Linked DNA regions of Homo sapiens. The protein of the gene in region 1 interacts with the protein of each later gene in a biochemical or structural test. Each region holds a gene or a part of one and is shown in the gene's direction. Other genes may lie near its edges.

Region 1 (3,500 bases):
GGACTGCAAGAGCCTGGGACCTTCTCCCCCTCCCCACTGATTACTTCATCCTGTGGGTCTCAGCTCCATGATTGCAGAGCCTTTGCTCACCTTCCTGACTTGAGTTAAATTGTTGCTATAAATGTTCATGCCACCAGATCTCTCTCCATTATAGCACTTTTCCTAGTGGCAATTTTGCAGTTAATTAATGTAATTATTTGTATTAGTACCTGTCTCCCGGCTACACTGTAAGCTGTGTGAAGGCAGGGTCTCTTTTTTAAAAAAACTTTTTCTAAGTTTTATTTTTTTTTCTTTTAATGTTTTATTTTGATACAATTCAGACCCATAGGAAGGTTGTAAGAATAAATCAAAGAAGTCCCATAAATTCTTCACCCAGATTCCCCAAACATTACCATTTTATTCTTTTTATTTTATCCCTGTGTACATATATATCTATCCTGAACCATTTGAGGATTATTTATCAATGCCTCCTTTCCCCCTACATATATTTCCTAAAAGCGATGATATTCCGTAACTACAATACAAATTTTAGAATCAATAAATTAATAGTGATACAACATTGTTTAATCTATAAACCTCAAGTTTTATATACTTTTTTTTTTTTTTTTGAGAGAGAGTGTCCCTCACTCTGCCACCCAGGCTGGAGTGCAGTGGTGTGATCTCAGTTCACTGCAACCTCCGCCTCCTGGATTCAAGCAATTATCCTGTCTCAGCCTCCCAAGTAGCTGGGATTCCAGGCGTGTGCCACCATGCCCGGCTAATGTTTGTATTTTTTGTGGTGACAGGGTTTCACCATGTTGGATGCTGGTCTCGAACTCCTGACCTCAAGTGATCTGCCTGTCTCAGCCTCCCAAAGTACTGGGATACAGGCCCGAGCCACTGCGCCCGGCCTAGATGTTAGGTTTTGCCAGTTGTCTTAGTGATGTCCTTTTTTATAGCAAAAAAAAAAAAACTCTTATAAATGGGTTGCGTACGGTTGTCATGTCTCGTTAGTTTCCTTTAAACTAAGACAGTTCCCCAATTGTTCTTGGTCCTTCAGGACCTTGACTTTTTTTGTTGTTGTTGTTCCAAGATGGAGTCTCGCTCTGTCGCCCAGGCTGGAGTGCAGTGGCTCAGTCTCAGCTCACTGCAGCATCCGACTCCTGGGTTCAAGCAATTCTCCTGCCTCAGCCTCCTGAGTAGCTGGGATTACAGGCATGTGCCACCACGCCCGGCTAATTTTTTGTATTTTTAGTAGAGACGGGATTTCTCCGTGTTGGTCAGGCTGGTCTCCAACTCCCGACCTCAGGTGATCCGCCCACCTCGGCCTCCCAAAGTGCTGGGATTACAGGCGTGAGCCACCATGCCCAGCCAGACCTTGACGTTTTTGGAAAGTACAAGCCAATTATTTTGTAGAATGCCCCTCACATTGAGTCTGTTTTAACTCACCATTTTGTCCCCAGTGCCAAGCACAGTCCCTGGACCATCAAATGCACTCAGTAAATATTTGTTGAATGAGGAGAGGGAGAGATGGAAGGAGGTGCAAGGGGAAAAGTCAGCAGGTTTTCTGCTTTCTTCCAGCCCCACGCCTTTCCCTGCTGAGTGATGTGGGGTTTTTTTTGTTTTGTTTTTGTTTTGTTTTTTTTGAGATGGAGTCTTGCTCTGTCACCCAGGCTAGAGTGCAGTGGCGCGATCTCGGCTCACTGCAACCTCTGCCTCCTGGGTTCAAGTGATTCTCCTGCCTCAACCTCCCAAGTAACTGAGATTACAGGTGTCCACGACCACGCCCAGCTAATTTTTTGTATTTTTAATAGAGATGAGGTTTTGCCATGTTGGCCAGGCTGGTCTAGAACTCCTGACCTCAAGTGATCCACCTACCTCGGCCTCCCAAAGTGCTGGGATTATAGGCATGAGCCACCCCACCCGGCCTGGATGTTGTTATTTAGTTGCAGTCATACTGTATACAGGTTTGAATCCTGCTATTTTTATAACAAAGCTTTCCCCAAAAAAGAGAGGCTTCCTGAGAAGATAGTGAGCCTGCTGTCCTTGCAGATATACAAGCAGAAGCCAGATGATGGTTTGGCAGGGATACTGGAGAGGCAAATGGAATGTTTGATGAGGGGTGAGACTCATCAGGCTGGGCGTCCCTGCTAATCATGGGTAGACTTCTCTAACTGCAGCACTGACTTCACAGGCCTAGGCCCCCAAGAACAGTGCAACTAGAATTTATCATCCCAACCAGAACAATTTGAGAATAAAAAGGGGTCCTATTAATAATTGCACATGACTGACGGGTCTAAGCCGGGACTGCCCTAGGTAAATCCGGACGTGTGGTCACGTCCGGATTTAAGAGTGACTTCGAGGTTGAGATCAGTGCAGGGTGAGCCAGCATGGAAAACCCTCTAGCACTAGGAATCTTCTACCTGGATAAAGACAAAACTAACCTCTGCATGGCCTGCAGGCCTGATGTTTGTGGCTTTGGTCCCCACACCTCTGTGGTCCCACCTCCAGTAGGATGCCACTCCCAGCTTTGTGCCTGCCACACCGGCCTTTTGTCAGCTCTCACCTCACTATGGTACCTGTCTGCCACAAGGACTGGCAGAGTCTGGAACGTCACTCACATACCCTGGCTGGATGGAGGAGCAGGGACAGAGTTTATGATAGATGGACAGGGAGATGAACAAGCCAGCTGTGCTTCCCACTGACCAATTTCTAATAGAATTTAAGAGCCAGGGTGTGTAAGCAAAGAAGGGCAGGAGGCGGGAGTCACCCTAGACCTTATCTTCTTTCCTCTAGTGCTCACACTTCCACCTCTTCTTCCTGCACCAACGCCCACATCCCTGTTCCAGCCCTAGTTCTGAGATGATGACTAAGTCACTGACCTTTGGCAAAGGCAGGGAAGCAGGTGGCATTGGGGACCCAGGCAGAAGAGGATGGGCATTGGATGGACAGTAGATGCAGACAGGGACTTGGATGCAGAGAAACCAGGCAGGAAACCAGCATCTAGGGATCCCAGTAACAAGGTCACTACAGGGCCATTTATCAGGAAGTCTAGATTTGTAATATCAAGTGACCAGACACTCGGTCAAGGGGTCAGGCTCTGGGATCCATACAGTCTGGTTCTTTAACTTATTTTCTGCCTAGAAGAAAATACAAACCTTGCCTTCCTGGATTACAAATTATTATAGGATGAAAATGTGAAGATAATGGAGCTATTTTCTGGGAAGCATCCCAGTCATGTGAACTTTAAGAACACTGTCCAGTGCAGTCGTGTTTTTATTACTCTAGGCATCAGCAGCTTTAATGGAAAAGCCAGTTAGTAAAGGAATGTTCCGGTTCCTAGAATGCAAGATACTAGTACTGCTGAATGTTGGAAAGATTTTCTGGTTAACTGTGTTATTAGATTTTACTGCTTAAAAATGTACTTTCAGCCTGGTGCGGTGGCTCATGCCTGTAATCCTAGCACTTTGGGAGGCAGAGGCGGGTGGATCACCTGAGGTCAGGAGTTCGAGACCAGACTG
Region 2 (3,500 bases), on another chromosome or scaffold:
ACCTTCATAAATAAAAAACACTGTTTTTTCTCATACATACTAAAATAAATAGCTATCAAAATATTTATGCTTCCTGAGAGATCTGTGGTAGTTAGCAAAGGTTTTCTGCAAGATTTTGGATAACATTTTTTTTAAAAGTAAAGTGCTATTTTGGCCAGTTGGTAATTCATTCAACAAATACTTACAGAGCCAGGAACTTTCCAGGCATTTGATGTACATCAGTGAACAGAACATACCCAAACTTTTATGGAGCTTACATTATATTTAGATCATATGTTATAGTATGGAAGCTCCGGCCAGGCATGGTGGCTCACGCCTGTAATCCCAGCAGTTTGGGAGGCCGAGGCAGGTGGATCACGAGGTCAGGAGTTAGAGACCAGCCTGGCCAACATGGTGAAACCCCGTCTCTACTAAAAATACAAAAAATTAGCCGGGTGTGGTGGCACATGCCTGTAGTTCCAACTACTCAGGAGGCTGAGGCAGGAGAATCGTTTGAACCGGGAGGCAGAGGTTGCAGTGAGCTGAGATCGCACCACTGCACACTCCAGCATGGGTGAAAGAGCGAGACTCCATCTCAAAAAAAAATAATTAAAAGCTTCATGAGCTCTTCTAAACAGCCTTTCCCACTTCCTACCCCATTTCTATTAATACAACTAGGCCAATTCTCAGTATTTGCAAACATCAAAGATTTTGCCTTTTCAGAGAAGGTTTGGAAATCCTTACTCTTAAGTATCAGAATTAACGTCACATGCGTTGTGTTCTGGGAAATTCTCATAGGTGAACTCAGTTCATGGATTCAGATGTCTTTTAAGCATTATGCTATGCAAGAAGCAAAACAACAGTTTGTTGAATATGATAAAAACAGTGATGATACTGTGACTTGGGATGAATATAACATTCAGATGTATGATCGTGTGATTGACTTTGATGAGAACACTGCTCTGGATGATGCAGAAGAGGAGTCCTTTAGGAAGGTGAGTTCATGTGCACAAGCTGTTTCTTTTGATCATGTCAGTTCACTTTACCTTCCTGCATGAATGAGCACATTGAGGGCCTGAGGTCATAAGCTGGATTGTCTTGTTCTCTAGGAAATCACCTGTTCCACTTCAGCAGTCATTTTGATGGTTTCCTTTCTGGCCAGATTTAGGACTCTTATTCTAAATTACCTACATGATCCTTCTATCTGTTTTTCTCGGCTGCATCATTTAATTGTCCTCATTTCCAGAGTTGCTTTTTAAATGTGTTTTGAATGAGTATCTCAATATTTTAATATCATTGAATAATCAGTTTTATCTTTATTAAGAAGGCCATTATGGCCCATTCCCATTTTTAAACACATAGTTTTATATACTCACTTAAAAAAACTGCGGTTTCCACATCTGTGGATTCAAACAACTGAGAATCGTAAGTATCCAAAAAAGTAAGTATTAAAAAAAAAAAAACTGTGTCTCTATTCAACATATACAGAACTTTTTTCTCTTGATTATTCCTTAATATAGTATAACAATGATTTATTTCTCATTTAAGTTGTAATTTATATTATAAGTAATCTAGAGATGATTTAAAGCAGAGGTCCCCAACCTTTTTGGCACCAGGGACCAGTTTCATGGAAGACAATTTTTCCACGGGACAGTGTGTGGCGGGGGGGTGGGGAATGGTTTTAGGATGAAATTGTTCCACCTCAGATCAGCAGGCATTAGGTTCTCCTAAGGAGTGCGCAACGAAGATCCCTCACATGTACAGTTCACAGTAGGGTTTGCACTCCTATGAAAATCTAATGCCACCCCTGATCTGATAGGAGGCAGAGCAGAGCTCAGACGGTAATGCCTGCCACTCACCTCTTGCTATGTGGCCCAGTTCCTAACAGGCCATGAACCAATACCCGTCCGCGACCTAGGGATTGAGGGTCCGTGATTTAAAGTATTCAGGAAGATGTGTGTAGGCTATGTGCAAATACTGCACCATTTTATATCAGGGACTTAAGCATTCTCAGATTTTGATAGGGAGGTCTTGGAACCAATTTCCCAGGAATGTGTGAGGGAGGACTGTGTAACAAATTGACCATTGTAACCATTTTAAAGTGTACAGTTGAGTAATATTAAGTACATTCATGGTGTTGTGCAACCAATCTCCCCGACTCTTTTCATCTTACAGAGTGGAGACTCTCTACCCATTAAACAATAACTCCCCATTCCCTCCTCCCACTAGCTCCTGGCAACCACTGTTCTACTTTCTGTCTCTGAATTTGGCTACTCTAGGTACCTCATCTAAGTAGAATCATACGCCGTATTTGTCTTTGTAACTGGCTTATTTTTACTTAGAATCCTCAAGATTCTTCCATTTTGTAGCATGCATCAGAATTTCCTTCCTTTTTAAGGCAAAGTAATATTCTGTTGTATGTACAGGTTGAGTATCCCTAATTCCAAAATCAAAATGCTCTTAAATATGAAACTTTTGGAGCACTGACACGACACTCAAAAGAAATGCTCATTGAAGCATCTTGGATTTGGGATTTGCAAATCTCTGTGGGATCCTGCTTTCCATTGGTTTGGGTATATACCTGGAAGTGATACTGCTAGATCATACGGTAATTCTATTTTTAATTTTTTGAGAAACCACAGTACCATTTTTCATAGTGAGTACACCCTTTAAAATTACTCCTTTTTTTTTTTTATTTTTATTTTTTGAGACAGTATCTCACTCTGTTGCCCAGGCTGAAGTGCAGTGGTATAATCTCGGCTCACTGCCTCCTGGGCTCAAGCAGTCCTCCCAGCACAGCCCCCGAAGTAGCTGGGATTTCAGGCTCAAGCCACCACGCCCATCTAATTTTTGTATTTTTTGTAGAGATGGGGTTTTACCATCTTGCCCAGGCTAGTCTCAAACTCCTGAGGTCAAGTGATCTACCCACCTCAGCCTCCCAAAGTGCTAGGATTACAGGTGTAAGCCACGACACCTGGCCCCAAATTACTCATTTTTTGAAAATTTAGTATCTGTGTGAGTTCTAATGTGTCTCATGGTTTAATTTGTTGAAATATATGCTTCTTAAGCAGAGCTGAGAAAGACTAATTTTATTTAGGAATTAGGAACTTTTTAACACTTCTAGGAAGTCTATTAAACTAAAAGTATATCAACAGAAATGACTGTGAGCTTGAGAAATTGATATATCAAATACTTTTGTATTTCAAAGCTAATTTTAAAGAATTAAAATCTTTTTTATAGGTACATGATAGTTGTATTATACATACTTACAGAGTACATGTGATATTTTGATATCACACAAACGTATATTATAATGATCAAATCAGGGTAATTAGAGGATCACCAAGAATTTTTTTAAGATAGTTTTTATGTGTAGAAAAACATAAAAATAAAATCAAACATGCTGTTGCAAACTGTCCCAAAATATTAGTCAAGGGTGCTTGGAAAATATTCAAGGCTCTTCTGTTTCTTAACTTATCCTGTTTTGGTATATACCTTTTAATTTTTGTTGTGGCCATAAT
Region 3 (3,500 bases), on another chromosome or scaffold:
TCTCCTGACCTTGTGATCCACCCGCCTCGACCTCCCAAAGTGCTGGGATTACAGGCGTGAGCCACCGCGCCCAGCAACAAGTGTTTCAATACTCTATGTATTGTATTATTTTATTGGTCACATTTATTTCAATTCTGAGAACTTGGATACCTTATGAGCCCCTTCTTTCTAACAGTACTCATACCTACCACTTCCGAAGGAATTATTTCTATTCTAAAAAGAGCCATTTCTGAGAAATATTTGACTTTTGATAGACTTTATCTTGTTCTTTTTTTTTTTTTTTTTTAGGTGGGGTCTCACTCTGTCACCCAGGCTGGAGTGCAGTGGCACCATCTTGGCTCACTGCAACTTCTGCTTTCCAGGCTCAAGTGATTCTCCCACCTCAGCCTCCTGAGTAGCTGTGACCACAGGTGTGCGCCACCACACCCGGCTAATTTTTTGACTTTTTGATAGAGACAGTGTTTCACCATGTTGCCCAGGCTGATTTTGAACTCCTGAGGTCAGGCAATCTGCCCACCTCAGCCTCCCAAAGTGCTGGGATTACAGGCATGAGCCACTGCACCTGGCCTATGTTGTTCTTTTTTTATGTTGTGGGCTTAAATACAAAAACAAAAAAGTAGTTCTTTCCAATCAAAAAATTATTGTTGAGCATAAGGCTTTATTTTGGTAAGAACTTTTTGGCTAAAGTACGCCCAGACTACAGTACCACTTAACTGTAATATAATGCATAATGTGAAAATGCTGGTTTGACACAATGTCTTATGCCTGTAATCCCAGCATTTTGGGAGGCCAAGGCGGGTAGATTGCTTGAGGCCAGGAGTTCGAGACCAGCTTGGGCAACATGGTGAAACGCCATCTCTACTGAAAATACAAAAAATAGTCAAGTGTGGTGGTGGGCACCTGTAATCCCAGCTACTCAGGAGGCTAAGGAAGGAGAATTGCTTGAACCCAGGAGGCAGAGGTTGCAGCGAGCTGAGATAGCGTGCCACTGGTCTCCAGCCTGGGTGACAGAGCAAGACGCTGTCTAAAAAAATAAAAAAAAAAGAATATACTCTGTTAATTGTACATTATATGGAACCACCAAAAGGCTAATACCAAAGAAAATGAATGATACCAACTGGGAGACTAAGAAAGGGGTTTCAGAGGCAGCATATTTTGCTCTGGGAGTGAAAAGAATCACCACATTTTGTAACATGCCAAAACTTACCCCTGTACTTGGAAATGAATGAATGAAACTATTAAGGAATAAATGAATGAAATATGGAACTGTGTCCCGTGTACCTTTCAAGGCTCAAGATATATTTGATATTATTAGTCTAAACGCTACCAAAAGTATCTCTAATCTTGAAATTCTCCATATTCTTCCATAATTTAAGACAGCACTTGCCTTAGCTTCATTATTTTAAAATGATAGCTTAGAGTGAAACCTACTTGATATATAGATGAAGGGAGCATATGTAAAGGATTATATTTCTTAAGTCTTTCATCCGTTATACATTTAGAAAACTTGATAGGCATAGATGTGTGTTCTTTGCCACTGTGGCTTCCTTCTCAGGGTAACTGCCATTCATTCACCAAACTCCTGTTGTGTGCATCTTTCTTAGATGAAAATTATGGCTGGCATTATGTGATCCCTGTTCTTAAGATGTTTGTGGTCTAAATGGAGCAAATAAGGCATTCACATGTGAAAAGTTAAATAATATAACAAACTAAAATAGATGTCATAAGTTTTATAGTGCCAGTATGATAAGGGAATTTGGAAGAAAGAGAGACTCTTATAAACTGGTGTCGTTACAGAAGGCATTTGGAAGAGGTAGAATTTGATCTGAATCTTGAAATGTGAATAGGGAACTATCCCATTTGGTGGCATAAAAATGATTTTATTCCTATAAAAGGATCCTATCTGAGCATTCGATATGGTGTGGTTTTCTGGTGCTGCTGAATCTTAAATTAAAAATGCTTTAAAATTTGTGCTTTGGTGGATACATATTTCCATGGACAAGAAGGGGTGAACTTTGAAAAACAAAGATTCATTACTGAACAGGTAAGAGTGATGATTTTTGTATTCCTAGGAGAATCAGACAAAATACTAACAGCTTTGTTGTTTTTGTTTTAGACAGACTACTCTGATAGTTTATATTTTGTCTTTTATTGGAATGGTTATCTTTACTTTCACATTGGACCTTAGATATATTATCATCGTGTTTGTTACTGGAGGGGTGCTTGGGTAAGTATCAGATGTGTTTAGGAGGAATGATAGCATGCTGTTATAATTCTGAAGTATTATTACTCTGGTCTTTAATTTTTTCAGTTCATCCAAAGTTTCTTCAATATTTTAAACTTTAAAGGATTCATTCTATGCATATAAACATGTAATTCTTAAGAACTATTAAAAATTATTTAAAATTGGTTTTTGGTATACCATAGGTAAAAAATGGATGAGCCTTACTTAATCTGTGTAACTTTATTTGGTTACAATCAACTTATAAAACTAGAAGTAAATTTTTCTCAGAAAAAAATGTGTATTTGTTGCTTCCAGTTCTGTAACCTTGAGCTGATTGGTCAATGATAATAGTTCCTTACTTTGACATAGCAACTTCAAAATATTCACTTATTTGGTCATTAGAATAAGCCCGAGAGGCAGAATGATTGCATCAGTATGTGATTGTGACTTTCTGGTAGTTCTTTCTGTAATTCTGGATTTATTTTCCTAGCTTCTTCATGACTGGTTACCTCCCTTTGGGTTTTGAATTTGCTGTTGAAATCACTTACCCTGAATCTGAAGGTACTTCATCTGGTCTTCTTAATGCTTCTGCACAGGTAAACCTCTGATTTCTCTAAACCTGAGATGATTATTATACCAGATATTCTAGTGAGTAATGAGTTTGACCATGGTTTTATTTGTTGTTGTTGTTGTTTTGTTTTTTGGAGACAGAGTCTTGCTCAGCCATCCAAGCTGGAGTGCAGTAGTGCAGTCATGGCTAACTATAGCCTCAAACTCCTAGGCTCAAGCAATCCTCCCCCCTCTGCCTCCAGAGTTTTTGGGACTGCAGGTGCACACCAGCATGCCCAGCTAAATTTTTTTTGTTATTTTTTGTAGAGATGGTGTTTTGCCATGTTGTCCAGGCTGGTCTCGGACTCCTGGGCTCAAGCAATTCGCCTACCTCAACTCCCAAAGTGCTAGGATTACAGTGGGTGTGAGCCACTGCACCCAGCCTGACCGTGGTTTTTGTTTTAACAATTCAACTTTTCAATGAATGTTTCTAGAAACCAAATCATATAACCAAAATAAGAAAAGTTCTGGTGAAAACTTTATACTTGCTTTAAATAATTTAACTTAATAACGAATGATTTTTCTTATTGTATTTTAGATATTTGGAATTTTGTTCACATTGGCTCAAGGAAAGCTCACATCAGACTATGGTCCTAAGGCAGGGAACATTTTTCTCTGTGTCTGGATGTTTATAGGCATCATATTAACAGGTAAATTAGGGCGTTTG
Region 4 (3,500 bases), on another chromosome or scaffold:
TTTTATTCTTGACACAGGAGAGAGGCTTATGGCATGTTAGAGAGGCTTAGAGCTGAGTGTGGACTTGTTGATCAGTTTGATCCAGCTGAAGTCAGTGTGGCCCGAAGCCCACGTGAACTGAAGGATAGATAGTGTGCAGAAAGACTTGCAGGAGTCCTGTGCACACATCCGCATGGAGCTGTATGCGCTTATCTGGCCAGCAACTTTGTACCAAGGCTCACTCTCACAGGGACCTGCTGCTCTCAATGCTTTCGGGTCATTATACTTTCCTGTGAAAGTATGCTAGCTGACATATGCTTACAGGAGTCACAGTTTTCTTACAGGTTTGGTTTAAGTGAGAGATCAACCCAGATTTTTGGGACATACCCACCCACACAGTGAAAATCGAGCAGTTTGTTTCATGATTCACATTGACATACATTCAATGGGTCACTGAACAGGCACCTCTTTCTGAATTTTATTCTACCTTTGCAAAAATAACATGATCAAAACATGCGAAATGACTCATTTTTGAACACAAGACTCCAAGGAGAATAAGAAAACTAAAACTTCAAACTTATATAGTGTGTTTTCCTTTCCACCTGTAAAATATCACCCCTTCTACATAGTCTTGTAGTTTGGGTACCATAAGAAACCATGATTATAAAAACTTCACATCTTTTCAGAAGAAGTTTCTTTTTGAGTCATGCTCTTTTAAACTTTAATCTGTGGAAACATTTCCCAAAGTGTGTTCTTTATAATATTAGATCTATACAGCACTGGTGGGTGTTACTCCAAAATGCTTCAGAGTGGTTCTGATCACGACTGAACGTAATTAGTGGAAAAGATTCTTTATGATAGAGCTCCTCAGAGACTTGGCTGTGAATGTTCCCAATGTATGTTGTGATTCTTCAAGAGGGGAATATAGCAAGTCGTTCTCAGTGACTTCTTTAAAGTACGGAAGACTCTTTTCTCAAGGTGCTTTGCATAAGCCTAATGTTCTGAGGAATATACTTGGGGAAACTAATTCCTAGGACTGATTTCACTTTTTTGGGCCGTAGTTTAAATGTCAACATGTGAAAAGGACTGTGGCATTTTTTTGTCTCTTTTTGGATTCTTAGGAACTTTTTTCTTTCACTTATGGTCTCTTTGGCTTTTATCTTACTGAAGCAAATGATTTTTAATACATAAGTAATACTTTTAAGTCTGATGTAAACCAGGTGATGTTTATGGGGTGGATGAAAACAACACTGAGTCGACATTTGGGAGGTTTGGGAAGTGCCAGGAATTACTAGTAGACCAAAATTGATTTTAACATTTTATCCTTTCTTTAGCTTAAAGACTCCACCTGTTCCCCCTGACCCCATTAAAATTTATAGGTTCTCTCCTTTTTCTCTGAACCAGAAAAAGAAAATTTTAGCTTACCTGAAAATAGTTAATCACAGAGCTGAACTCTTTAACCAAATATAGTTTCAAGATGTTACACAGGCTAATTGTGAGTCCAGGATCTTTTAATCAGTCCGTTTACTTTCTTACCTTTTGTTTTTTGAAGAATTTGGAAGTCCTTCTCTTTACCTATATGTTAAAGCTCTCTCATAATCATATGTTAAGACTTAATACAGAATTTATCATAATTGTTTCCATTTAATTTACCTGATAAAACTTGATAGAAATACCTAAACGAGAAATATCATGTAATGTTTCATAGGGCCTAGTATAAATAAGTGAAGTATTTGTGCTCACATTTGTTAAGTAGATGTTTTTTAAGAAATGTTTTGGATTTCTTTTTTTGTATTAGGAAAAGAATGAAAGATATCTTCTACTCTTCCCAAATGTTTTGCTAATGTTGTCTGCCAGTCCTAGGATGAGTGGCTTTATCTATCAGGTAAAACACAATTTAAATTTATATTTTATTGTGGATCTGAGGATAATTTCAAACTGGCTTTGAATTTTGTGTTAAATATTACGTGTATCTATCTGTGTATGTGCTGTGTGTGTAGTGCTGTATATTCAGATATGGACGTACAGCTCCTGTTTGTGTTTCGTTGTGACTGCAAGCATATCCTATGTTAATTTCAAAAAAGGAAAGAAGTGTAAACTGTAGAGCAACCTCATAAGGACACAGACTACTGTGGCACAAGTCAGTCTCTGTCATTGCCTTCTGTCGTTTCATGCAAAATACCTTGCTCCTCCTTGCTATGGTTTTATTCTGTGAAATTGGTTCAAGTAGGGCTTGTGGGTTAGTGGGGTAGTGTAGACTAAGATCTTGTGTCAGTGGCACGGCACCGCCCAAATGCATCAGCAAACAGAAAGTGATGTAAGGGTGTAAGTAGCAGTGTGTGATCGTTGAACCTTTTTAATTTTTGTTTCCCTGCTTCTCTTTGAGAAAATGTGACAGCAGATTTGGGAAGGAGGTGCAAGGGTGAGCAGGGCCTTTTCTGTTGCGACAGTGGTTTATAGTGGTGGTATATGAAGGAGCTGGTATTTTCGCTGTCTGTCTAGTAGATGCACTTGGCAGGTTTCATTCTTCTTTTTCTGGGAAGTTACAGAGGCTCATATCCTTCCCATCAACTTTCTGAGGACTGGCCAGTCACCACGTAACCACTGCAGCAGAAGCCGCCACTTCGTGTTCTCTGGGTTGCATTTCATTGTAGCACGTGTTGTTTTGTGTTGGCGCAGCAAGGACGTTCAAGATCCCTAAGCAGACACTATGCCCTCACAGAGGCTCTGCCGACACCCAGAGAGGACTTGTGGCCATACGCTTACACCAACACACGTGCTTTAGAATTGGTGAATCACATATGTAGGAACAGACTCAGGAAAGTGAGGCTGTAGTTTGTTAGGCCACTGCTGAAGAGAGGTGATCTGTGGCTAGGATAGTGCCCACTACAGTTTCCCCCAAACTAGCAGCTACTTCTGTGTTAAATGACCTTGATAAACCTAAATCTCTGTCCTTTCTGGTCAGCACTATCTGGCTTCCGATTTTATATCCCCAGAATCTCATTCCAGTGGCTGGAGGCAGGGGCCTTCTCTAACCTAAGGAGAGAAGAGGTTGTCACTTGTGGCAGGCTTGAGTCTCTGCCTGTGTGGCTGGTGCTTACACTGGATTTGCCCTTGATGTGTTGACAGACTGCTGGAGCTCATCTCAACAACAGGATTTTATTTTTCCATTCTTAGCACAGTGGTGACCCATGGTCTCTGTATCATTGGTATCCGTTTCTACCATTAGAACACTGGCTTTGGGGGATGCCAAAAAGTGTTCGGTCCAGCCACAGTCATAGTGTTCTATACACCGATGTTCAGAGGGGCTAGGTTAAACACAGTTGTGCGGTTTCATTTTCTGTAGGACTTACAGCTGTTAAAGTACTTATATGCATTACGAATCTTGGAAAGGAGTTCACAGTGTGTAGCATTTTTTAAATACGCTTGGCCACAGAAGTGTCCAGCAGTCTCCTCTTCCACCGGCCATGCTTTAGGATGAGATTTCTCAGCCTGGGCACTGCTGACGTTCTGGACTGGAT
Region 5 (3,500 bases), on another chromosome or scaffold:
ACTAGAGAACCAACCTGATTAATTTAGAAAAACAACATGATAGCAGAAATACAAACCTTGAATAATGCCTCTGTCTATTCTTAATGAAATGATGTACATGTGGTTTAAACTAATCCAACTTCAATTTTCCCATCTTAAAAACAGAAGTAATAACTACCTTTTAAACTTTTGTAAGGTTTAAGCAAGCTAACATACATGAAAGTGAATGCTACTTGCCTGACACAAGCTAAATGTGCCATTCATGGAAACAATTGTTTTCTTCCTCCTTTGAACATCTGAGGAACTGGAGTTACCTCTTTGCAATCCTCCATAGTTGCTGTTGTGCTTGAATCATGTAAAGTTTCAGGAAACAACGCCTGTCCTTCAACCCAGTGTTCCCCATAAAAGTTCTCTTTAGCTGAGTGTCTTGCAATTGGTCAGGAGAATATTTAGTGATGCCTTCAGGCCTCTCATCTTGTATGGGGTGGGTGATTACATTGCTTGGTTTCCAGAGTCTCTCTCAATACAAGGTTGAATCTTGTAGGAACTATATTGCCCTTGCCCATTGAGAGTCTTTCCCATCACTCTACCACTTCACATGAATTTCCAGAGGTAACTTTCTTCATCATTTCACCTATATATGCATTATTTGTTTTCTAAAAAAATTATCGAGTCTCCATCATGTGCCAGGAAGGCCTTCCCAACTGTATCTGCCTGGCCACCTGAAACTCTGCCTGTGGCTCAAAAGCAAACACTCCTGACACTATATTCTGTTTCCTGCCTATTCTGTGGCTTCTTGCTTACAGCCTGCTGTCCATCTCCCGTCCTACTCTTGCTTCCCTGCTTATCTGTCTTGTCTCTATGTTCCAACTTCCATCACCTTTATTAACCTGGTTTCATCTGCTGCTAAATGAGCGCCTGTTATAGTTTTGGCCATCTACAATGTTCAGGAAGATTGGTGAATGCAAAGTTCATAAATTACGGCTTCTGGGAGTTATCACAGCCACATTGTTAGACTCAGCTGAGTGTAGTGCTGCCTTAGTGAAAGTCAGTGATATGGATTAAGAATGTTAGTTGTAACAATGAAATGGAAGATGATTCTGGAGAGAGCAGAAGCCCAGTGCCATCTTTAACTGTCCCAGAAATCCTCACGGTAGAGGGACAGTTGTAGAGGACTTTATAGTTTGTGATTTCCAAAACACCTTAACTTTCATGATCTCATTATATCCTCAAAACACCTTTATGAGTTTAGTTTTGTTATCCTTGTTTAAAAGAAACTGCATGGATCTGGGGTTTGAACACAGGCGTGACTCAAAGTAGAACATTCTTTCTGCATCATAATTTCTAAGCCAAAAGTAAACACAAAGCAGACAACAAAAGCAAACTTTGAGATTCCCATTAAAAGTATTCCTACATAATCAAAGATTAAATATTTTAAACAAATAAAAGGTAACATTTTCATTGAGTGAGTACTAGCCTCTTCAAAGGAGTCACCTTGAAAGACTATAATTGTATTGCAGTAATGCTACTGTTGTTTAAAATATTCTAAGACTCTTATTTTGAATTTCTTTGTATATTTTTGAGAATATTCTTAACAAGGGCAAAGATTTAACCTTTAAGGAAAAGCTCTCATCTTTCAGCATAACTATCTTGAAAGGAAATCTCATTTGGGCATAAACATTCTGGCATATTTGTTAAAACTCGTCTTATAATTAAAATTCTAAATTACAAATCTACTGTCAGCACATCCTTCAGAAAAGATGTATCCCAATGATTCCTGCCCCTGATGATAAATTAAACTTTCAATACTATAAAGTATTTTTCTTTATAAAATATAAAATGTTTCCCATGGGTTTTTCCATGTTGCTTTATTCCAAACGCTGTCTTGACCTGAATATTCAATAGGAAAACTGAAGACAAGTCTTAGATATGATAATGGAAGAAATCTCTCTTCTGCAATAACAAGGACAACTCTGATGTGGACATAAGAATTTACAATCAAGAAACCTGGCAGGGTTCAGTTTCCAGGTTTGTCACTAGCAAGCAGTGTGAATTTGAGCATGTTACCCACCCACGTAGGGGCTGACTTCCTTGATCTGCCAAGTAAGAGGTTGGCATAGATTACTCCAATGTTCCCTCCAGCTCCAACCTTCTATAATCTCAGCCCTACAGTTTCCAGAGTTAAATGATTCTAGACTTTAAAAGGCAGTTTTATACTTTCAGATAATACAAACAGTCTCAGTTAACAATTAAAATTTTATGGAAGAGAATAGGATTAAACATTCCTATAGCACATCTCAGAAGGCCTAGTTCAGTACCCTTTCACACTATTTGGAGACATCTCAGAGGTCTTTGGTTTGTACTTTTGAGGTGACAAAATTCATCATACCAGTTCTACTAGATGAAGTATTACACTGATTAAGAAATTATGGTTGCCATCATTAATGACAATACTTCTCAGAGGCAGAGGCTCAAGTGATTAATTTATTTCTCCAAAATAAAGTACCATTTTTTAATTGACTAACTTACTGGAAATTTTGTTTCTTAGCTTGCTGTGTGACAGGAATTATTCCTGGTTCTGGACATATGGGAGTGAATACAAAAATAGTTCCTGCCTCTCTTGATTGTACAGTTCAGTGTATTTTTTGTTTGTTTAAGCTCCTCAGCTATCTTTATAAAAAATGGGAGGAAAGATATGAGGAATAAGCAAATAAATAAATTTGAAAATAAGGAGCAGAAAAAATGAAGTATGGAGGGCCAATGAATGGCACATATGGTGCAGATAGAAATGACATACCATTGCAAAAGTTCCTTTTGAGAAGAGTAGAGGAATATGAATAGCAAAAAAAAGGATAAAAGCAGAAGGATTAGGCCATTCAGGTGACAGAAAAAAAAGTGAGGGAGAGAGAATACTGGGAGAGATGAAGGATAAATATAAAAGCGAATGGCAGAGAACAAAAAAAAATGAAGGAGAAAAGAAAGAATGCAATCACAATTTTGTGAAATAACTCAAAAAAACCAATTTTGGGGGGGGGTGCAAATTTTGTCTCATTAATGTTTGTAACCATCTCCTATTCTCCCGGAGCTAGCACTTAGTAGGCTTCCAGTAAAATTTTATCAACAAATAAATGGGTAAGTCATTGAACTTACTTGTGAATTTGAGTAAGAAAGGATGCTATAAGATATGAAAGAGCACTATACACTGGGAGGATACACAGGAGAAAGGTTGAATGAACTGGGAATGCACTTGTTGGTTACACACATGCAAGAGGACATGTAACTCCTGCAAACACTGAAAGAGAATTAACTGATAACTGATTGGCTATTTTTCCTTTTACTGGACCATTAGTAATATCCATTCCACTCATACTTAGACAACAATTCTGAATGAAATTTGCACACACACAACACACACACACACCCCACCTGTGATGCATTGAAGTAGTGTCATAAATTGCTCTAAAAGTTTACTTTTCTACCTTGTTAGCTATTTTTATACACCTTTGCACAGAAGTATATTA
Region 6 (3,500 bases), on another chromosome or scaffold:
CCAGCCTGGGCAACAAGGGCGAAACTCTGTCTAAAAAAAACCACAAAAAATCAAACAAACAAAAAGAAGAGTTTAATTCTCTTAGTCAGCCCATGTACTACCCATCAACTGGAGGGGGAAATATCAGAAAATTCAGGGTCTTCTGGTTAGCCACTATTTCTGCCTTTGCTAAACATACCTCTGTTTTTGTATATTTTCCATACCCATTGCTAACCTTCCCCTCACTTTGTCTTCTTTTCAGGATCACTTCCAGAAGTTCCTTCCAACAGTGGGGGGACAGCTGGGCACAGCTGGTCAGGGATTCTCATACAGCAAGAGCAACGGCAGAGGCGGCAGCCAGGCAGGGGGCAGTGGCTCTGCCGGACAGTATGGCTCTGATCAGCAGCACCATCTGGGCTCTGGGTCTGGAGCTGGGGGTACAGGTGGTCCCGCGGGCCAGGCTGGCAGAGGAGGAGCTGCTGGCACAGCAGGGGTTGGTGAGACAGGATCAGGCAAGTACACTCACCCAAGAGTAATGTGTTTGGTCCCTAGAGCAGAGTTGTCCCAGGAATGATGTCTACGCTGAGTGTGGGGAGCAGAGGAGGTCAGTTTAAATATCTTAATATTAAATATAATAATATCAGTTTAAATATCATAAATATCTTGGTGAATTACCTGGGTCCAGGAGTATATAGAGATGTGTCTATTCTACCCAGAAGCCTTGTTTTTCAGTTACTTTCCTGGCTTTTCGGATTCAGTCACAGATCTGCCCACAGACTATCATTATGCCACAAACCTTATACAATTACCAGGATATTATATCTTTAGTCCCTGGCTCTTGCAATTTCCCTAGTGTAGGGGCGTGGGATTACCTTTCATTGGCTACTAAATGCTATTATTTGACTGAATTTTCTCTCCCATGGCTACCAGGAGACCAGGCAGGCGGAGAAGGAAAACATATCACTGTGTTCAAGACCTATATTTCCCCATGGGAGCGAGCCATGGGGGTTGACCCCCAGCAAAAAATGGAACTTGGCATTGACCTGCTGGCCTATGGGGCCAAAGCTGAACTTCCCAAATATAAGTCCTTCAACAGGTAGGGGTGGTGAGGAAGGAACCAGATGCATTCTAGTGTGAGGCACTGTGTCTTTAGTTAGGATGGAGACTAATTCAAATGTTTCAGAAGGAGGCTAAGGAGAGATGGCAGGGATATGGGGGTCCTAATCAAAGGCCCTGCTCTTTTCACTCTATCTCAGCTTCATCATAGCAGTGTGATGAAGGAAAAAATTTGCTGGGAGGCAGGATTTGAATTCTAGCTCAATGGTCATTTATTAGCTGTGTAGGCATGGGAAAATCACTCTACCTCTGAGCCTGGGTTGCTTTGAACGTTACACTTATTTATTTTTTGTCTTTTTTTTGCTTCCTTTTTGTGGAGAATGGGGTCTCGCTATATCGCCCAGGCAGGTCTCGAACTCCTGGGCTCAAGCTATCCTCCCGCCTCTGCCTACCTGAGACCTGGGATTACAGGGGTGAGCCACCGTGCCCGGCCTGCTTTGAATGTTAAATGCGAATAACATTTTACATGTCTGAAGGCCTCTTGAGGCTCTCTTCCATTCAAGGTTAGGATGCCATTATTCTCCCTGTAATATGATTCTATTTCCTTATACTTTTTTCTTTTCTTTCTTTCCTTCTTTTTCTTTGACTCAGTTTTGCTCTTGTTGCCCAGGCTGGAGTGCAGTGGCATGATCTCAGCTCACTGCAACCTCCGCCTCCTGGGTTCAAGTGATTTTCCTGCCTCAGCCTCCCTAGTAGCTGGCATTATAGGCACCCGCCACCACGCCCAGCTAATTTTTGTATTTTTAGTAGAGATGGGGTTTCACCATGTTGACCAGGCTGGTCTCAAACTCCTGACCTCAGGTGATCTGCCCGCCTCGGGCTCCCAAAGTGCTGGGATTACAGGCGTGAGCCACCATGCCTGGCCACCCTGCTTTAGATGGCTCTAAGTCTCTGTTCTTTTGGAATTAGGCTTCTCTAGCCCATGGAGAGGAGGTCTGTGTGAAAGGATAGGGAAGAGCTAGAAAGGTACTCTTGTATTTGGTCCTAAGGAGCCTGGATTTTCCAGGCAACAATAATTACTCTTAGCCAGGCTATCCACTGTCCACTAGGGTTGGAGAGAGGGGGTCTCTATATTGCAATTTTTTTTTTTTTTTTTGAGACAGAGTCTTGCTCTGTTGCCCAGGCTGAAGTGCAGTGGTGCAGTCTCGGCTCACTGCAACCTCCACCTCCTGGGTTCAAGCAATTCCTATACCTCAGCCACCTGAGTAGCTGGGATGACAGGGGTGCGCCACCATGCCCAGCTAATTTTTTTTTGGGGGGGGGGTGTTTGTATTTTTAGTAGAGATGGCGTTTCACCACGTTGACCAGGCTAGTCTCAAACTCCTGGTCTCAAGTGATCCACCCACCTTGGCCTCCCAAAATGCTGGGATTACAGGCGTGAGCCACCGCACCGCACCTGGCCTTTCTACATTGTCATGTAAGGTGACCTCAGGCCCTTGGGTCTATAGTATTTGGGGTCACTTTCTCTGAAATGCTGGTCTGGGTCACAGCTATCCAAGAGTCTCTAGTACACACTAGACTCCTTTTCTCATTATTAGCTTTGGGGAAACAAGCTAACCAGGAAGGCAAAATGGGATGCTAAGGAAGAAGAAGGAGTACAGATGCAATCCCAAACTAGAATTCACAGACTTCCCTATTCTCAAAGAGGGTAGCATCTCATGATAAGGCTCTGTTTCTTTTATTCTGATTCTTAATTAAATAATGTGTCCCCTTCTCAGGACGGCAATGCCCTATGGTGGATATGAGAAGGCCTCCAAACGCATGACCTTCCAGATGCCCAAGTTTGACCTGGGGCCCTTGCTGAGTGAACCCCTGGTCCTCTACAACCAAAACCTCTCCAACAGGCCTTCTTTCAATCGAACCCCTATTCCCTGGCTGAGCTCTGGGGAGCCTGTAGACTACAACGTGGATATTGGCATCCCCTTGGATGGAGAAACAGAGGAGCTGTGAGGTGTTTCCTCCTCTGATTTGCATCATTTCCCCTCTCTGGCTCCAATTTGGAGAGGGAATGCTGAGCAGATAGCCCCCATTGTTAATCCAGTATCCTTATGGGAATGGAGGGAAAAAGGAGAGATCTACCTTTCCATCCTTTACTCCAAGTCCCCACTCCACGCATCCTTCCTCACCAACTCAGAGCTCCCCTTCTACTTGCTCCATATGGAACCTGCTCGTTTATGGAATTTGCTCTGCCACCAGTAACAGTCAATAAACTTCAAGGAAAATGAACTCATTCTTCCTTTGATATTTGAGAGCAGATGAAAGCCGAGGCTAACAATGCACAGAGACTAATTAAAGCCAAATACTAAACATTAATTATGCAAACTTTAAGACAGATCTGAGCTCCAGTTGCTTACACACCTACACCCATACGCACAAAACCACATTCATAGTTACTTACAAAGACG
Region 7 (4,113 bases), on another chromosome or scaffold:
CTCGGGAATTTGGGCCTCTGATCCTCCTGGCCACACTACCCACCCCCGCACCTCCCCATACACACACACACACACACACACACACACACACACACACACACACACACACATACACACAGGACTTAGGACAGATGTTCACGGTCTGATTTCCAAATCCTCCTGGGCCTGTGTGGGGGTGGGGAGAGATTGGCAGATAGATCCACCGACTCTTAAGACTTAAGACCAGATATTCTGACCCCTGTCACCCTCTTCCAAGTGCACCATGCACTTGAGTGCACCTTGAGTCTCCAGCCTCTCAAGGAACCGGGAGATCAGGCCATCAGCGTCTCAGCCAGCAAAGGCCTGAACCACCAGTCCCTTATAACCCTGTAAGTCCAACCCCCACTCCCAACCCCACTCCCCCATTTAGGGACACGGAGTCTGAGCCTAAGAACAGTGGAGAATCTGAATGTGGACCCTCCAGTTCTTACAGGTCCAGGAATGTCAGATCAGGGTCCCAGCCCCCCAGCCCTCCTTCAGGCTGCTCGGGGTCCCTCCCACCTGCTCGGCCAGCTGCGCAGCGTGGGAACGCCCCAGCTGGGCTGCATGGAGCCGTCAGGACAAGCTGCGCGGTTCCCAGCCTCCCTGCCTGCCCCGGCCCGGCACCGCCGCCTCCCAGCCGTCGCCGGGCAACCAGGCCGAGGGGCCCGGCCGGCCGAGTGGGGAGAGGGGTTGGGCTGGGACTGCGGGGTCCTGGGAAAGGAGGGGCCGAGGGCCTGGATTCCTGGGTCTTAGGACGTGCTGTAGTTTGCAGCAATAACAAGGGAACAGAGGGATATTTTGAGGAGGGGTTTTGAGGCTGGGGGAGTCGAGGTAGGGGTCCCAACTGTCCCCCAGGTATCGGTGTGCCCTCTTCCCGACACGCAGGCCCGGGGGAGCCCCGGACCCCGCATCCCCCAGGGCGCGGAAACTGGCGAGGCCCCAGGAGCTCCCATTTATAGCTCAGTTTCCACTGAGCGCAGTCCCTCTAGGACCTGGGCTGAGCAAGTTTCTTCCACTCTCTCCCTTCCCTCCTCCTCACCCCTTGCCTGCCCCTCAACCCCGGCAGGGCGCAGGTGTCCAACCCAGCCGGGACCCCCTCCCTCCTCGAACCCAGGTGTTCCGGCTCCCAGACCCCAATTGAGCTGGGGGCGCCCACCCGCCGGGGGATCCCGCCCTGCGTCCCCCATTCATCCGCGTCTCAGCCGCGGGAGTTTCTCAACGGGAAGAGGGCGGAGCTCCCGGGGGGCGGACCCGGGCGGGGCGAGCGGGATCGGGCCCTCTTGGGGTCTCCCAGAGACCCAGGCCGCGGAACTGGCAGGCGTTTCAGAGCGTCAGAGGCTGCGGATGAGCAGACTTGGAGGACTCCAGGCCAGAGACTAGGCTGGGCGAAGAGTCGAGCGTGAAGGGGGCTCCGGGCCAGGGTGACAGGAGGCGTGCTTGAGAGGAAGAAGTTGACGGGAAGGCCAGTGCGACGGCAAATCTCGTGAACCTTGGGGGACGAATGCTCAGGATGCGGGTCCCCGCCCTCCTCGTCCTCCTCTTCTGCTTCAGAGGGAGAGCAGGTACCGCACGAGGGGAGCGGAGGAATATGGGGTGGGGGTGGGGAGTTGCTTGCGGGCTGCCTCTTCACTAGCGAGAAGGGAGCTGGGGGCTGGGACTCCTGGGTCCTGAATGAGGAGGCCCCTGAAGGTGCTAAGCTCAGCCCTGCTGCCCCGAACTCTCCTAGGCCCGTCGCCCCATTTCCTGCAACAGCCAGAGGACCTGGTGGTGCTGCTGGGGGAGGAAGCCCGGCTGCCGTGTGCTCTGGGCGCCTACTGGGGGCTAGTTCAGTGGACTAAGAGTGGGCTGGCCCTAGGGGGCCAAAGGGACCTACCAGGTAAGAGTGTTCTCTCCACGCTGGGACGGGCTGGCTAGGGGGAGAGTTGCTGGGCTCGGCTGTACCTGCAGTTTCTATTTTGACATTTTCAAGTTTGGGAAATTGATGGGCTCGGGTAAACATTTAGGAGTCCTGATTTTTGAGCTGCTTCTTTGGGGGTGACCCACGGAGTTTGGGAATTATTATGTTATTGCAAAATAGTACATAGGCCAGGTGCAGTGGCTCACGCCTGTAATCCCAACGCTTTGGGAGGTTGAGGCCAGAGGATCGCTTGAAACCAGGAGTTTGAGACCAGCCTGGGCAACATAACAAGACCTTATCTCTACACAAATGTATATATATATTTTAAACAAATTAGCCGGGTATGGTGGTGTGCATCTATAGTCCCAGTTACTCAGGAGGCTTAGGTGGTAGGATTGCTTGAGCCTAGGAGTTCAAGGCTGCAGTGAGCCATGATCAAGCCACTGCACTTCAGGCAATGGTGAGACCCTGTCTCAAAAAAAAAAAAAAAAGAGAACATAAATGCAAAAAAGTACAGTAAATATAAATGGAAGATTTACCAAATAAAATAGACACACACAGCCAATACCCAAGTCCATTGCTAGCTCCCCAGAAGACCCCGTGTTCCTTTCCCCTATCATAGCCCCCTCCCCCTCACTCCAGAAGTAGTATCTAACCTAATTTTTATGGCAATCATTTTCTTGCTTTCCTTCCTGACTTTATTACCCCTAAGTTTGCAGTGACTCTGGGTTGGGAGGGAGTTAGAGTCTCTCTGGGCCCAGTACACACTTTTTAATAGTGTCTTACCACCAAATGTGTGGGCCAGTTTTCTGGTGGAGGATGTCTGGGGATGGAGGCCTGAGGCCAGGATTTCAGAACCATGGTGTGCTGACTGCCTTCTCCCTGACTCCAGGGTGGTCCCGGTACTGGATATCAGGGAATGCAGCCAATGGCCAGCATGACCTCCACATTAGGCCCGTGGAGCTAGAGGATGAAGCATCATATGAATGTCAGGCTACACAAGCAGGCCTCCGCTCCAGACCAGCCCAACTGCACGTGCTGGGTAAGGACCTCGCCCACTTGTCCCCTGGGAGCCCAAGAGGGCAGCCCGTACTAGCTGTGAGTAGCAGAGCCCAGGGAGCCCAGGGGCATGGTCAATTGGAGCTGAGAAGATCAGGATCCATCTCTGACCCCAAATCCACCTTGCAGTCCCCCCAGAAGCCCCCCAGGTGCTGGGCGGCCCCTCTGTGTCTCTGGTTGCTGGAGTTCCTGCGAACCTGACATGTCGGAGCCGTGGGGATGCCCGCCCTACCCCTGAATTGCTGTGGTTCCGAGATGGGGTCCTGTTGGATGGAGCCACCTTCCATCAGGTCAGGTCCAAATTCCTGTGCTAGCCTTTGCCCATTGAGGGAAACTTGGGTTACACTCTGACCACAGGCTCATCCAGAAGAGAAGAAGACATGGGAGGGCAGAGGTTCATGGGTTTGGACTCTTGAAATATGATGCAGGGTAAAGATTCTAGGGCCAGACTACCTGGGTTCAAATTATGTCTCAGCCACTTGCTAGTTGATTGATCTTGAGTAAGTTAGTTAACCTCTCTGTGCCTCAGTTGCCTTATCTATACAATCAGGATAATAGTAGCATGCATGTCATAGGGTATTGTGAGAATTAAATAAATAAATACCTATAAATGCCCAGAAGAGTGACCAATACATAGTGAGCACTATATAAGTAAGGCAAGCTTGTCCAACCTGCGGCCCATGGGCTGCATGCAGCCCAGGATGGCTTTGAATGTGGCCCACCACAAATTCATAAACTTTCTTAAAACATTATGAGACTTTTTTGTAATTTTTTAGCTCATCAGCTATCATTAGTGTTAGTATGTGTGGCCTAAGACAATTCTTCTTCCAATGTGGCCCAGGAAAGCCAAAAGATTGGACACCCCTGATGGGTAGATGGCATTATTATTCTTATCCTTCCCTCCAGACCCTGCTGAAGGAAGGGACCCCTGGGTCAGTGGAGAGCACCTTAACCCTGACCCCTTTCAGCCATGATGATGGAGCCACCTTTGTCTGCCGGGCCCGGAGCCAGGCCCTGCCCACAGGAAGAGACACAGCTATCACACTGAGCCTGCAGTGTGAGTGCAGCTGGCCCTGGGAAAGAGGGGTGTGGGGCCCTGACTCCTGGGTATGAGGAAGGAGGGGACTGTGGCCCTT

What was found.
Region 2: the proteins of PTPN3 (region 1) and RCN2 interact in a test that uses a peptide from one of them, tested with the Homo sapiens proteins (one large-scale study listed by IntAct).
Region 3: the proteins of PTPN3 (region 1) and FLVCR1 interact in a test that uses a peptide from one of them, tested with the Homo sapiens proteins (one large-scale study listed by IntAct).
Region 4: the proteins of PTPN3 (region 1) and ARHGEF7 interact in a test that uses a peptide from one of them, tested with the Homo sapiens proteins (one large-scale study listed by IntAct).
Region 5: the proteins of PTPN3 (region 1) and SLCO1C1 interact in a test that uses a peptide from one of them, tested with the Homo sapiens proteins (one large-scale study listed by IntAct).
Region 6: the proteins of PTPN3 (region 1) and MYOZ1 interact in a test that uses a peptide from one of them, tested with the Homo sapiens proteins (one large-scale study listed by IntAct).
Region 7: the proteins of PTPN3 (region 1) and KIRREL2 interact in a test that uses a peptide from one of them, tested with the Homo sapiens proteins (one large-scale study listed by IntAct).

Annotation. Positions count from the first base shown.
Region 1 is NC_000009.12:109,488,308-109,491,807, reverse strand, and holds part of PTPN3 (tyrosine-protein phosphatase non-receptor type 3), read left to right. Parts: intron 1-3,500.
Region 2 is NC_000015.10:76,934,749-76,938,248, forward strand, and holds part of RCN2 (reticulocalbin-2 isoform a precursor), read left to right. Parts: intron 1-777; coding exon 778-974; intron 975-3,500.
Region 3 is NC_000001.11:212,885,775-212,889,274, forward strand, and holds part of FLVCR1 (choline/ethanolamine transporter FLVCR1), read left to right. Parts: intron 1-2,116; coding exon 2,117-2,227; intron 2,228-2,714; coding exon 2,715-2,820; intron 2,821-3,371; coding exon 3,372-3,483; intron 3,484-3,500.
Region 4 is NC_000013.11:111,275,810-111,279,309, forward strand, and holds part of ARHGEF7 (rho guanine nucleotide exchange factor 7), read left to right. Parts: intron 1-1,777; coding exon 1,778-1,864; intron 1,865-3,500. UniProt on the Homo sapiens protein: Acts as a RAC1 guanine nucleotide exchange factor (GEF) and can induce membrane ruffling. Functions in cell migration, attachment and cell spreading. Promotes targeting of RAC1 to focal adhesions. May function as a positive regulator of apoptosis.
Region 5 is NC_000012.12:20,733,332-20,736,831, forward strand, and holds part of SLCO1C1 (solute carrier organic anion transporter family member 1C1), read left to right. Parts: intron 1-3,500. UniProt on the Homo sapiens protein: Mediates the Na(+)-independent high affinity transport of organic anions such as the thyroid hormones L-thyroxine (T4), L-thyroxine sulfate (T4S), and 3,3',5'-triiodo-L-thyronine (reverse T3, rT3) at the plasma membrane.
Region 6 is NC_000010.11:73,631,475-73,634,974, reverse strand, and holds the end of MYOZ1 (myozenin-1), read left to right. Parts: intron 1-241; coding exon 242-491; intron 492-909; coding exon 910-1,075; intron 1,076-2,813; coding exon 2,814-3,045; 3' UTR 3,046-3,363; downstream 3,364-3,500. UniProt on the Homo sapiens protein: Myozenins may serve as intracellular binding proteins involved in linking Z-disk proteins such as alpha-actinin, gamma-filamin, TCAP/telethonin, LDB3/ZASP and localizing calcineurin signaling to the sarcomere.
Region 7 is NC_000019.10:35,855,598-35,859,710, forward strand, and holds the start of KIRREL2 (kin of IRRE-like protein 2 isoform c precursor), read left to right. Parts: upstream 1-1,313; 5' UTR 1,314-1,522; coding exon 1,523-1,583; intron 1,584-1,747; coding exon 1,748-1,897; intron 1,898-2,810; coding exon 2,811-2,960; intron 2,961-3,106; coding exon 3,107-3,267; intron 3,268-3,883; coding exon 3,884-4,034; intron 4,035-4,113. UniProt on the Homo sapiens protein: May regulate basal insulin secretion.